Linked DNA regions of Homo sapiens. The protein of the gene in region 3 purifies or fractionates together with the protein of the main gene of each other region. This does not show direct contact. Each region holds a gene or a part of one and is shown on either strand. Other genes may lie near its edges. The genes, in order: SLMAP, BRICD5 and STRIP1.

Region 1 (3,647 bases), on a different chromosome or scaffold from region 3:
AAAAAAAAAATAGGCCAGGCGCAGTGGCTCACACCTGTAATCCCAGCACTTTGGGAGGCCAAGATTGGTGGATCACCTGAGGTTGGGAGTTTGAGATCAGCCTGACCAACATGGAGAAACCCCATCTCTACTAAAAATACAAAATTAGCTGGGTGTGGTGGCGCATGCCTGTAATCCCAGCTACTCAGGAGGCTGAGGCAGGAGAATTGCTTGAACCTGGGAGGCGGAGGTTGCAGTAAGGTGAGACCGCGCCATTGTACTCCAGCCTGGGCAACAAGAGCGAAACTCTGTCTCAAAAACAAATAAATAAATAAAGCTCCACCAAGAGCCGTGTTGAAATGTGAGGTTCTAGAGAATCAAAGCCATGAAAAATGGGGACTCTCTGCCTTCTTACTTTCCATTTCATTTTTTTTTTTTTTTCTGAGATGGAGTCTTGCTCTGTCACCCAGGCTGGAGTGCAGTGGTGCAATCCCAGCTCACTGAAACCTCCACCTCCCAGGTTCAAGCAATTCTCCTGCCTCAGCCTCCCGAGAAGCTGGGATTACAGGCATGCACCACCATGCCCAGCTAATTTTTGTATTTTTAGTGGAGACAGGGGTTCACCATGTTGGCCACACTGCTCTCGAATTCCTGACCTCAGGAGATCCACCCTTCTCGGCCTCCCAAATGCTGGGATTGCAGGCATGAGCCACTGCGCCTGGCCTCCATTCCTTTTGAATCACTAAAAACAAACACACAATAACAATCTCAAAGAGCCTTGGGGTCTTCCATACCTTGAAGAACCTGTATTTGTTTAGTGGATTCCTCAACTTGATTTCGATAGGCTTTTCTTTCTTCTTCCAAAAGAGCTAAAAGTAAAAACACAGTATCTATTAATAGTTTTGTGAATTAATGAAAGTACTCAGAGTTGAGCAGCTGAAAATTTCTTTTAAAATTCTCTCCTAAAAGATTATTGAAAGAAACAAAAGTTAGGCAGTAAGTATTATCAGTATTAGCAGTTAGTTTAAAGATTTTAGGAGCACAGAACTGTAGTAAGTAATAAATCTATTCAACTGAGTAGTGGAGTTTTCTGGACCTGGTATCACCAAGACAATATGTGCTTTTCTTAACATGAGAAACAGTCTTGATAATTGTTAATCAGCATTTTGAACTTAATTTTTTAAAAAGACTTAAAATTCTTATATTTACTGTCAAGCACATAGTAAACACTAAACTAAATAATTGCTATTTACCAAATATTTTTTCATTGTAATTTAATATATTAGCCTGGATCCTCCAAAAGGTTCAAGTTAAGTGAATACCAATTCTAATTTCTTTGAGAATTAGGAAAGGAAAGAAGTAGTAACAAGAAGTTCCTAGTTCCCTCCTGGGATGTAAATCTTCCTACTAGGCAGGAAGGCCATCTTGGAGAACATGAGGGCTCCAGAAGTCATTCCCTTTCTCATTTTAAGACTCTTTGAGATACTAATTGTCTGCAACCAGGTAGTTACTATGAATGATACAGAAATGTAAGCTCTAGGGAACTGCACAGACTCCACTGGCTTATGACCTATAGATAAGTGAGCTACTAGAAAAGAATGTGGCCAGGACATTAGCTAACATTAGGCATAATAAAAATTTAGAAATTTGAGTTTTCCTTCTGTTGTACTTAATATGCAATTAACTATTAAGATCTTTCAGTTAGTAAAGATCTTACTTGATTTTCACATCAACAGTGTGAAGGTAGAGCAACTGTAACTCTCCTCATTTTACTGACCTGAAACACAAGTTTAGAGAGGTCAAGTAAATATACCAAGATCACATATCTCATAAAGTTGTGAATCTGGAACATGCCTCCGGACTCCAAGTTTGGGGCCACCCAATTATATTGTGCTGCCTCCACACATCCCTAAAGAACCAAAGTAATCTTGATCTCACCTTGAAGTTCAAAGCATTTTTGTTTACTTGTTCTAGCTAGCTCCTGGGCTTCGATCAATTCCTTTCGAAGATGCTGTATTTCTTGCTTTGCCTCAATTTCTGACTGTGCACCCTGCAAGTCATCTGACAAAAACATGTTTATTTTAAAAGCAAGAGTTAGTATCACACTATAATCTACAATAAAAGACTGGTAATCTCTCTCATGTTTGCACATGCATAAACAACATAGAACAACTGAGTTAAATAAAACTTAGAAGCAAATTATAGTAAGCATTTTAGTAGTTGGGAGAAAATACAAATACAGTTATATATATTAGTAATCATGGTGATGACATTATAAAAATATATTAACATAAATTATATATTCACAATTCTAGCATCAAAATAAACAGACAGTGACAGATTATAACTCATTGCTTATTAAGACTTGAAATTCAGTGAGATGAGCAAAATGCTATACTTCTTCATCAATTTTGAAATTTCTTGATAACCAGTCAGAAAAATTTCACTTGGAACTTAACTGGATATGGAAAACAAAAAGAAACTTTTCTTCAAGTAACAGCTAAATTTTAGCACAATTACCCTAGTTGTGGAACACAAAATAAAAACTAGGCTGAAAGCTCTACTGAGCCTACTTTGTCATCATCATTTCCCCAACACGCACATATAACAAATATCTGAGCTGGGCGTGGTGGCTCATGCCTGTAATCCCAGCACTTTGGGAGGCTGAGGCAGGCGGATCACGAGGTCAGGAGATCGAGACCATCCTGGCTAATACGGTGAAACCCCGTCTCTACTAAAAACACAAAAAATTAGCCAGGCGTGGTGGCAGGTGCCAGTAGTCCCAGCTACTTGGGAGGCTGAGGCAGGAGAACTGCTTGAACACAAGAGGCAGACGTTGCAGTGAGCCGAGATCGCGCCACTGCGCTCCAGCCTGGGCAACAGAGTGAGACTCTGTATCAAAAAGAAAAAAAAAAACCGCAACAACAACAAAAATCTGCTGAATATATTAAATGATGTAACCTAAGTGGTTTTACCGAAATAAATTAAATCCAGCATTCTATTTCAAATATGCCCCTTCCCCTAAACTCCTTCCTCTCCAATCATTCTGCTTTTTAATTTTTTAAAACCTTCTGCTACTGAACACTGCCTGAAATAAATATATCATCAGGTAAGCCATATTGTTCTAATGAATTCTATTTGAGTATCACCTTGGTTTATAAGTACCTCAGCATAATAACTTCAATTCATCAAAAAAGAGCTAAGAATAACTTTCACAATACAATTACAATAGGTTTTGGAAATTATATATATATATATATATATATATATTTTTTTTTCATATTCATAGATTATATCCTATTTTTCTCTCTAGAAAAATTGTATTCTGGCCTAGGCGCGGTGGTTCATGCCTGTAATCCTAGCACTCTGGGAGGCTGAGGCAGGCAGATCACTTGAGGTCAGGAGTTTGAGACCAGCCTGGGCAACATGTGGAAACCCCGTCTCTACTAAAAATACTAAAAATTAGCTGGGCGTGGTGGTGCGCGCCTGTAATCCCAGCTACTCAGGAGGCTGAGGCACGAGAATTGCTTGAACCTGGGAGGCAGAGGTGGCAATGAGCCAAGATCGCGCCACTGCACTCCAGCCTGGGCGACAGAGAGTGACTGTGTCTCTAAAAAAAAAAAAAAAAAAAAAAGAAAAAAAAAGAAAAAAATTTGATTCTGGGTTCA
Region 2 (3,747 bases), on a different chromosome or scaffold from region 3:
TCGGACAACCTGGCCCGGCTCTGGTGTGTGGAGACTGGAGAGATCAAGAGAGAGTATGGCGGCCACCAGAAGGCTGTTGTCTGCCTGGCCTTCAATGACAGTGTGCTGGGCTAGCCTGTGACCCCTCGGGACTGCCTGGTGCAGGTGGTGGCAGCTGGAGGGACCCATGCAGCACCCAGGTCAGAGCAGACCCTCCCCTGCCGGCCTGCGCCAGCTGGACCTGATGGCCCCCTGTGGCGCCTTGACCTGCTGGGCCAGGCTGCCCTGGGACTCTCAGCCCCCAGTTGCTTATCCAGATGTGACAGAGCTCGACCCAAGCCAGGCTGCACACTCCTGGACTGGGCTAGCCTGCACTGCCTGGGAAAGTCGGCCGAGGGCCCAAAGCTGCTGAGGGGTCTGAGGCTGGTGCCCACCCCCAAGCTAGTGTGTTCTCTGCCCCTCCCTGCCCGCGTTTCAGGGCCTCGGTCCATAGAGAACACCACCACCATGGCCAGGTGGAAGGGTTTATTAGTCCCTGCCAGCAGCTGTCCTCCCTGGTGCAGGTGGCCTGGCCAGCCCACTGGATTGGGGACGGGCCAGGCTGGGCCAGGTCGGGGGCTCAGTCTGGGAGGTAATAAAAGCAGACCGACACGCAGATGTTGCTCGGGAAGCAGATGTCGATGCAGAGATAAATCAGCCGCTGTCTCCGGGGCCCTGTGGCGAGGGTGCCGTGAATCTCCAAGGGCTCCGCCCCCAGCTCCTCAAACCATCCCGAGGGCCTGGCCTTCCCCCACAGCGGTCCTGACTCACCCTCTGCTCGCCGGGCCCAGTAGATGGGGGTCCTCATGCACAGGCGCTGCACCAAAGCCCCCGCCTGGGCGGGGTCCACTTCGAGGCTCCCCTGCACTGCCAGCAGCTCCTGGGTGTGGTGGGTGTCCTGGCTGGGGACCCAAGCCTCTTGGACCTGTTGAGAAGGCTCTGGTGGGCGGTGGGACAGGGCTGCTCCCTGCTCCTGGCTTGGCAGGGCCGGGTACCCTCCAACCCCCAGTGATGTCCCCACCCTCAGCTCTTGTCAGCAGCCTGGGCTTAGGGCGGAGAGAGCTTCCTGTTCCCTGAAACCACAGCTCCAGCCTGTCCCGTACTGGGCTGCACACAGGACCCTTTGTCTAGCCCCTGGCCCGGGCCTGCGCCCAGCAGGACGGCTCACCTTGGAGGTATCCACCAGCAGCCGCAGGGTCTCCCGATCACTGTCCTCCATCAGGCGGAGGAAGCAGACCTGGTGCTCCTCAGGGCGGTAACAGATGCAGCCCTGGGGAGGCAGGGGGGTGAGGCGGGGCCCCCCAGACCGACACCTGCCAGGGTGACCCCTCCCTGCCCACTCACGCTCTGCCCGTCGAACAGCACCGCCCAGCTGTGGTTGCTCTGAGGTGGGGTCACTGTGATGGTCGCCGCGTTCCGGGCCACGTCCACCAGGATGGTTTGGTTGGGCCGGGGCATGTGGGGGCTCGGGAGGGTCATTCGCAGCGTCTGCAGCCTTGGCTGGCAGTGGGAGTTGGAGTTCAGCCGGGCAGCTGTGCAACCCCAGCACAGCCTCCAGCTCTGGGCTGCAGGACTCCTGACACCCCTGAGTGGGCCCTTCCACCCCTTGGTCCTCTGGCTGTCTGCTCCTAGGTGGTGTCACTGCCTGCTCCGCACCCTTGCTCTGCTGGAGGCTGGGATATGCCAGCTTCCCTTCTCCCTTTCCACTGTCCATGTCCCTGGTGCTGAGGAGGGGCTCACCTTGGGAGGGCCCTGAGCAGAGCCAAGAAGCCCTCCAGCCACAACCCCCACAGCGGCCAGCACCAGCAGCAGCAGCAGCAGGAGCAGGCTCACGGCTCTCCAGCCCCCGCAGGAGGGCTTGGTCTTCACCTGGGCGTGCATCAGGGTCAGAAGGGTCATGAGGGTTAGACATCAGGGAGCAAGTGGGCTGGGGAAGGGAGGGGCTGGGTGGCCTGGGGCACCCCCTGGGTCCTTGCTGCAGGAGTAACGGGAGGCACTCACCCCTGTAGGCCCAGGTTTGGGGCGCTCAGCACAGCAGCTTGCTGGTTCCATCCTGCAGCCCCTGCTCACAATGTGCCGATTGTCTGCGTCCCTTGTCTGCAGCCTTGGCCAGGGGAAACTCAGAACAGAACCCCTCCCCTCCTGACCCTGCGCCTCCCCCTCAGCTCTGGATCTGATATCCAGGTCAGAGCCAGGACAGCCCCTCCTCCCACCTGGGGGATGCCTGTCACCAGGCCCGGCTCCAGACACCTGGCCTGTGCAGACTGGAGCTCAGGGTCTGGGAGGCGTAGGGCTCGGCCGCGTGGAAATCCAGTCCGGCTGACCGACTGGAGGGCAGCCCAGGCCCGGCCAGGGTGACTCGCTAAGTGTGGTTGGGGTGGATTTCGTTTTCCTAAAGTGGCCTGAGTCTGTCAGGTTATCCTTGACTCCCAGAGTTGGGCACAGGGCCTGACACGCCACAAGCTGTCAATACGTGCCTGTTCAGTGAATGACAGGTGTGGGACTGTGCACCCCCAGCCACTTCCCAGCCCCCGCACACCCAAGACCGGGGGTTCCTGAAGCCTGGACCACAGACAGGCAGCCTGCTGGAGCCTGTGCCCCTGGGACAGTCAGGCCAGCCTCGGGGGCCCGCCTAGCCCAACTTTTTTTTTTTTGAGACGGAGTCTCGCTGTGTCCCCCAGGCTGGAGTGCAGTGGCGTGATCTCAGCTCACTGCAACCTCTGCCTCCCGGGTTCACACAATTCTCATGCCTCAGCCTCCCTAGTAGCTGGGATTACAGATACATGCCACCAAGTCCCGCTAATTTTTGTATTTTTAGTAGAGATGGGTTTTCACCATTTTGGCCAGGCTGGTCTTGAACTCCTGATCTCAAGTAATCCACCTGCCTCAGCCTTCCAAAGCGTTGGGATTACGGGTGTGAGCCACTGCGCCCGGGCCAGCATTACTTCTGAGCTCTGCTCCCTGCCCTGGGCGCTCTGACACGGCAGCCCACCAGCTTCACTCCAGGGCCCTTTGCTTCCCTGGCTTCCCTTTGTGCCTGGCTTTCCCTCATTCTTCAAAACATCTTCCTCTGAACCAGGCTGGGAGTGGGCAGTTGGCATTCCAGCTCTGGAGTTGGAACCCCAGTTACCCATCTACTTTGAGTCCTCCCACCCGTGGTGAGACGGCATCACCCGGGCCAATGCAAGGTGAGAGCAAGGACACCTGAGCCAGTGTGGGTTTGAGAGTTTAATCTGTGCTCTGGCGCCCACAGTGCTGCAGCCCCTCATGGGCCAGAGACAGGATGCACGGGGACTCCCAGCCCCTACCCGGCAAGAGAGGCATCACTGAGGCTGCATCTGCCATGCGCTCCTGGTGTGACTGCACCCTGTCAGGCCAGACCCGGCTTGAGCCAACTTAGCCAAGCCAGCGTCAGTGTCACCAGCCTCATGGGTGGAGCCACCCTCATGCTGCTCTGCAGCACCCTCTGAACCCGATATCCCAGGCCTGGGAGGTGCTGAAGGCTCAGGACGCCTCTTATTGCTCTGAAGTCTTTGTGACCAAGTGGAGTGCTGTGACTGTGGGGCCAAGAGAGAAGCTGCCAGGTACAGGGAAAGGCGCTGGTAGGGAGCCAGCCAGAAGGTGCAGCATCCCGGGATGGCCCTGCTGAGTCTGCTGTCAGGCCTGTGAAAGGTCAGCAGAGCCAAGGAGCAGGCAGGAGAGGCTGGAGCCCCGCCCAGAACCTTGGCG
Region 3 (3,647 bases):
AGTAACCTGGAAATACATGTTAACTAGTTTATTCATAAAATTAAAGGGATATATCAAACTTAAAAACATGCTTTATTCAGATAGTATGAACAAGTTTGTCAACAGACTTTCTTAAATATTAAAACTTTTAAACAATTAAAGCTATAGGCTACTGATTTTTCATATAGCTCACTTTTCCTATCCCAAACAATCAGCATACCTTGCATTTTCTGATGATCTGTTTTGCATTCCCTTCACAGATCACTGAAAACTGAGGCTTTACCTGGATCAAGAAAGCGACTTCTATATCCTCTCACATGTTCATCTATTTCTTAAGCTGCTGCCTATCAAACAGACACCATTTATATATCTCCAGGTACCGTCCCATCCATCGATTTACCCACATATATCTCAAACATTTTCATTATGGCTCTAAAGAAACTCTTCCTTAATCTATCATTTTTGTTAAAAACCATACACAACCCCAGGATGGGTGGAGACATGTTTGCTTAAATGCTTTTGTTTTTATTTGTTTCCTATCCCCCTTCACTAGCACATCTAACCAAGAGCTAACTCCAATTACTGCCTCAGTAGCCACATGAGGGCCATGTTGTGTGAGACCAGCAAGGCCGGCCTCCCTGAGACCCTCAGGACAGCACAGGGTGCTTTAAGAGAGCCTCATCCCAGAGCCACGGTCAGCCTGCCCTGCAGAGGACCACACATGGTGACACAGGCCAGGTGGCAGGCCTGAGGGTGTGAGGGCTCTGCCTCAGGAACTATGAGTGCTCTGGAGGTCTGAGACTCACCTGACCTTGGGAGCCCACGGGAGCCCTTTGGGGCAAGTCAGCCTGTCAGTCTGTGGGTGCTGTAGCGGGGGAGGCATCACTTCATCCCGTTCCAGGGGAAACGTCTCCCCCTCCAGACTGTTGTCATCATCATTCTCCTCTTCCTCTTCTCGAGAGTCATCAGCCTTGTAGGGATCCCGCTCGTTGAAGGCATCTAGGTTGTCCTGCTTTATCAGAGCCTGAAACCAGGGAAGGGAGATGAGACAAGAGCCAACTGAGGACGCAGACCAGGGAAGTGCAGCCAGAGGAGACACAGCACATACAGGTGTCCAGTAGAGGCAAGAACAGTGGAAAAACCACAGTGGGAGTCAAGACGGGGGCCAAACCATCAACTACTTCTTGCTCCAGTCCCTCAAAAGCACCACGTGCTGAGCACTCACCATACACTGGACCAGAGCTGGGGACAAAGTATCCTCGCTGTGGAGGCATGATTCTGACTGGCTGATCAGAGATCATTTCCAGCAGCCCTGCTCCTCCAAGGACTGTGCTGCTGCAAGCATGCACCTTGAGGGCCCTCAGGAGTCACAGGGACCTCTGTCGTCCTCACCTTGTGCTCTCGGCGGCCCCGTTTCTGCTGCTGCTCAATCAAGTCTGAAGCAGATGCTGGTGGAGAGGCTGCTCTCATGTTGCGAATCACTTTGATGCTGTCCTCAGGAAGCGGGGGGAGGCCCAGGATGCTGCGCTTCTCAGCCTTCATGCTCTGCAGCTCCTCAAAGCCGCCTAGCGTGCACTGCATCACAGACAGGGAAGCAGAGCCAGGGTCAATGTGTCCACAGGCTGGCCCCTGACCATTGTGTCAGGCTCAGAAACATTCATGACATCATGACCCATGTCTTTATAGAGACCCAGGCAACTCCTGAACAATGGACTGAAGCCACTCCCAAGGAGAATTCCGTGACATCCGCAAGGGAAAGGAGAAAAAGGAACAAGGAAAGAGTGGAGATGCAGGCTGACTGACCCTAGTGCAGATACACTAACTCTGCACCTATGACATACTCTTCAATTTAAAAAGAAGCAAAGAGCCTAACCCTGCAAGTTCCTAGAAAAGTTGGTGAGACTCATGTTTCACAAGTTGTACATGCAAGTCTTTCAAAGTCAAATTAGAAATACTGTTGGTTGCTCAACTTTAGAAGAAGAAAAAAAGCTTCATCTAAACATCTCCCAAGAAGCAGAAACGCCAGCAACATCCAGCTTTAGACTGCTTAGTTTTACTGTTTCTGAGCAATTCAGCTTTCCTCTCTAGCCTTAGCAAGGCTTTATGAAGAACAGAATGTGTGGCCAAGATAAAATGTGTCAATGACTTTTAAGAAATCCTATACTTACTGAGCCCTGGCTCCAGAGTTGACCCATTCTGAAAGGAAGGATGAGCCCCAGTGTAGCAGAGGCCCAACTCACCTCCACCGCCTCCCCATGTCACTCCTCCTGGGAAGGCCTCCTGGCATGGCCTGGCTGCTAACAACGCTCCAAGCCCAGTGTGCTGGACGGCCCACTCTGGCACCCAGTCCCTCCCTACCTAGACACAGAGTCGGGCTGACACCATACCCTGAAGAAAATGGAGGCTGGCTCAGGGCTCACTCTTGCCCCTTTAAGTGATATCCAACCAGGGCCCCAATTACATCAGCTGTAACTTTGCCTCAAATCCCTTTACAAACTCCAGGTCCAGAGCTGCTTGCTGAGAGGCAACTTGTCTGGGGGAGAGCTGTTCTATGACAGAAAACAGCTTCCGGGGTCAGAGAGCCAACAGCCTACTCTGACTCAAGGCCTATGTCCTCGTTGGCTGCAATGGGACAATAGTGGCCCTTCTTTTGTCATCTCCTTTTAGCAGCTTTTTAAATAATTTTTTTTACCAAAGCAGTTTTACAGTCACATAATTCAATATTCAAAAGGATATTCAAGGAACAGTCTCCCTACTGCCCATCCCATAGCACCGTTCTCCTCCTCCAAGGAGGTGCTCACCAATACTGTCTTCCAGAGCAGCAAGAGAACTTTCTTCATGGGAAAGTGAGGGGCGTGACCACTGCAAAATTTGGTCACCATCCCAAACAGCATGATGGCAAATGGCTCATTGTTGTACAGCGGGGAGCCTGGAGGTGACACAAAGGTATCAGGACCCTCCCAAAGCCTTCCGCCTCAGCTTCCAGGCAGGGCCTCTAGAGAGGATCCCCAGGGTCCTACCCAGCTCGGCTCTGAAGGTCTGCCGCATGGTCCTCCACTCAGCCTTGTCACCCTCACACTCCTGATGAACGGTCTCCACTATCAGGTACATGATGTTGAGCAGGACCCTGAGGACAAGAGCCAGCTCACAATGGAGTGGGATGGGGGGGTCAAAGGAGCACCCTAGTGTCTAACAAAGTGCTTACACAAAGCAGGGGCTTACTATTAATAAATGGTATCTGAATAAATGAGTATGAACAAGAATGGCCAAAAGCATTTACCACCCTAAGCTTCCTGAAAAGAAAAAAACCACAGAGGTGGTAGCGAGCTGTAGGGTCAAAGCAGAACAGGGTCACAGTGAGAACAAAAACAGGGTTTATGATGAGGAAATGGAAAGCAGGAGCTGAGAGGTGACGCCCAGGGATCCTAACACCCGGGAGGCAACACTACAACCACCTAGTCTAAAAACTTCCAAATTCATAAAAAGAGCCAGATTTCAACCCTCAAAAACTGAGGGGTGATCTTGGTGGTCAGCAGTTGCTGTGAGCTCCTGGGCAGCCATGAAACATTAGGAAGCTGTCAGGTCTAACCCAATGAAGATGAGCATCAAGCTGTGTACACAAGAAGGTGGGAGTCCAGGGAACACCATCAAGTGTTTCATCCAAATAC

What was found.
Region 1: the proteins of STRIP1 (region 3) and SLMAP purify together in Homo sapiens (affinity purification with mass spectrometry; 4 studies listed by BioGRID and IntAct, with this or other methods). This does not show direct contact.
Region 2: the proteins of STRIP1 (region 3) and BRICD5 purify together in Homo sapiens (co-immunoprecipitation; one large-scale study listed by IntAct). This does not show direct contact.

The regions. Positions count from the first base shown.
Region 1 is NC_000003.12:57,906,277-57,909,923, reverse strand, and holds part of SLMAP (sarcolemmal membrane-associated protein), read right to left. Parts: intron 2,041-3,647; coding exon 1,918-2,040; intron 870-1,917; coding exon of another isoform or gene 849-869; coding exon 774-848; intron 1-773. UniProt on the Homo sapiens protein: Associates with the striatin-interacting phosphatase and kinase (STRIPAK) core complex, forming the extended (SIKE1:SLMAP)STRIPAK complex.
Region 2 is NC_000016.10:2,208,764-2,212,510, forward strand, and holds BRICD5 (BRICHOS domain-containing protein 5), read right to left. Parts: upstream 2,101-3,747; 5' UTR 2,071-2,100; coding exon 2,020-2,070; exon of another isoform or gene 1,931-2,019; coding exon of another isoform or gene 1,888-1,930; coding exon 1,759-1,887; intron 1,519-1,758; coding exon 1,363-1,518; coding exon of another isoform or gene 1,289-1,362; coding exon 1,187-1,288; intron 944-1,186; coding exon 790-943; coding exon of another isoform or gene 694-789; coding exon 599-693; 3' UTR 490-598; downstream 1-489. Other genes in the region: MLST8 (target of rapamycin complex subunit LST8), read left to right, coding at 1-114.
Region 3 is NC_000001.11:110,040,995-110,044,641, reverse strand, and holds part of STRIP1 (striatin-interacting protein 1), read right to left. Parts: intron 3,107-3,647; coding exon 3,000-3,106; intron 2,909-2,999; coding exon 2,781-2,908; intron 1,555-2,780; coding exon 1,372-1,554; intron 1,004-1,371; coding exon 786-1,003; intron 324-785; coding exon of another isoform or gene 305-323; exon of another isoform or gene 1-304. UniProt on the Homo sapiens protein: Plays a role in the regulation of cell morphology and cytoskeletal organization. Required in the cortical actin filament dynamics and cell shape. Part of the striatin-interacting phosphatase and kinase (STRIPAK) complexes.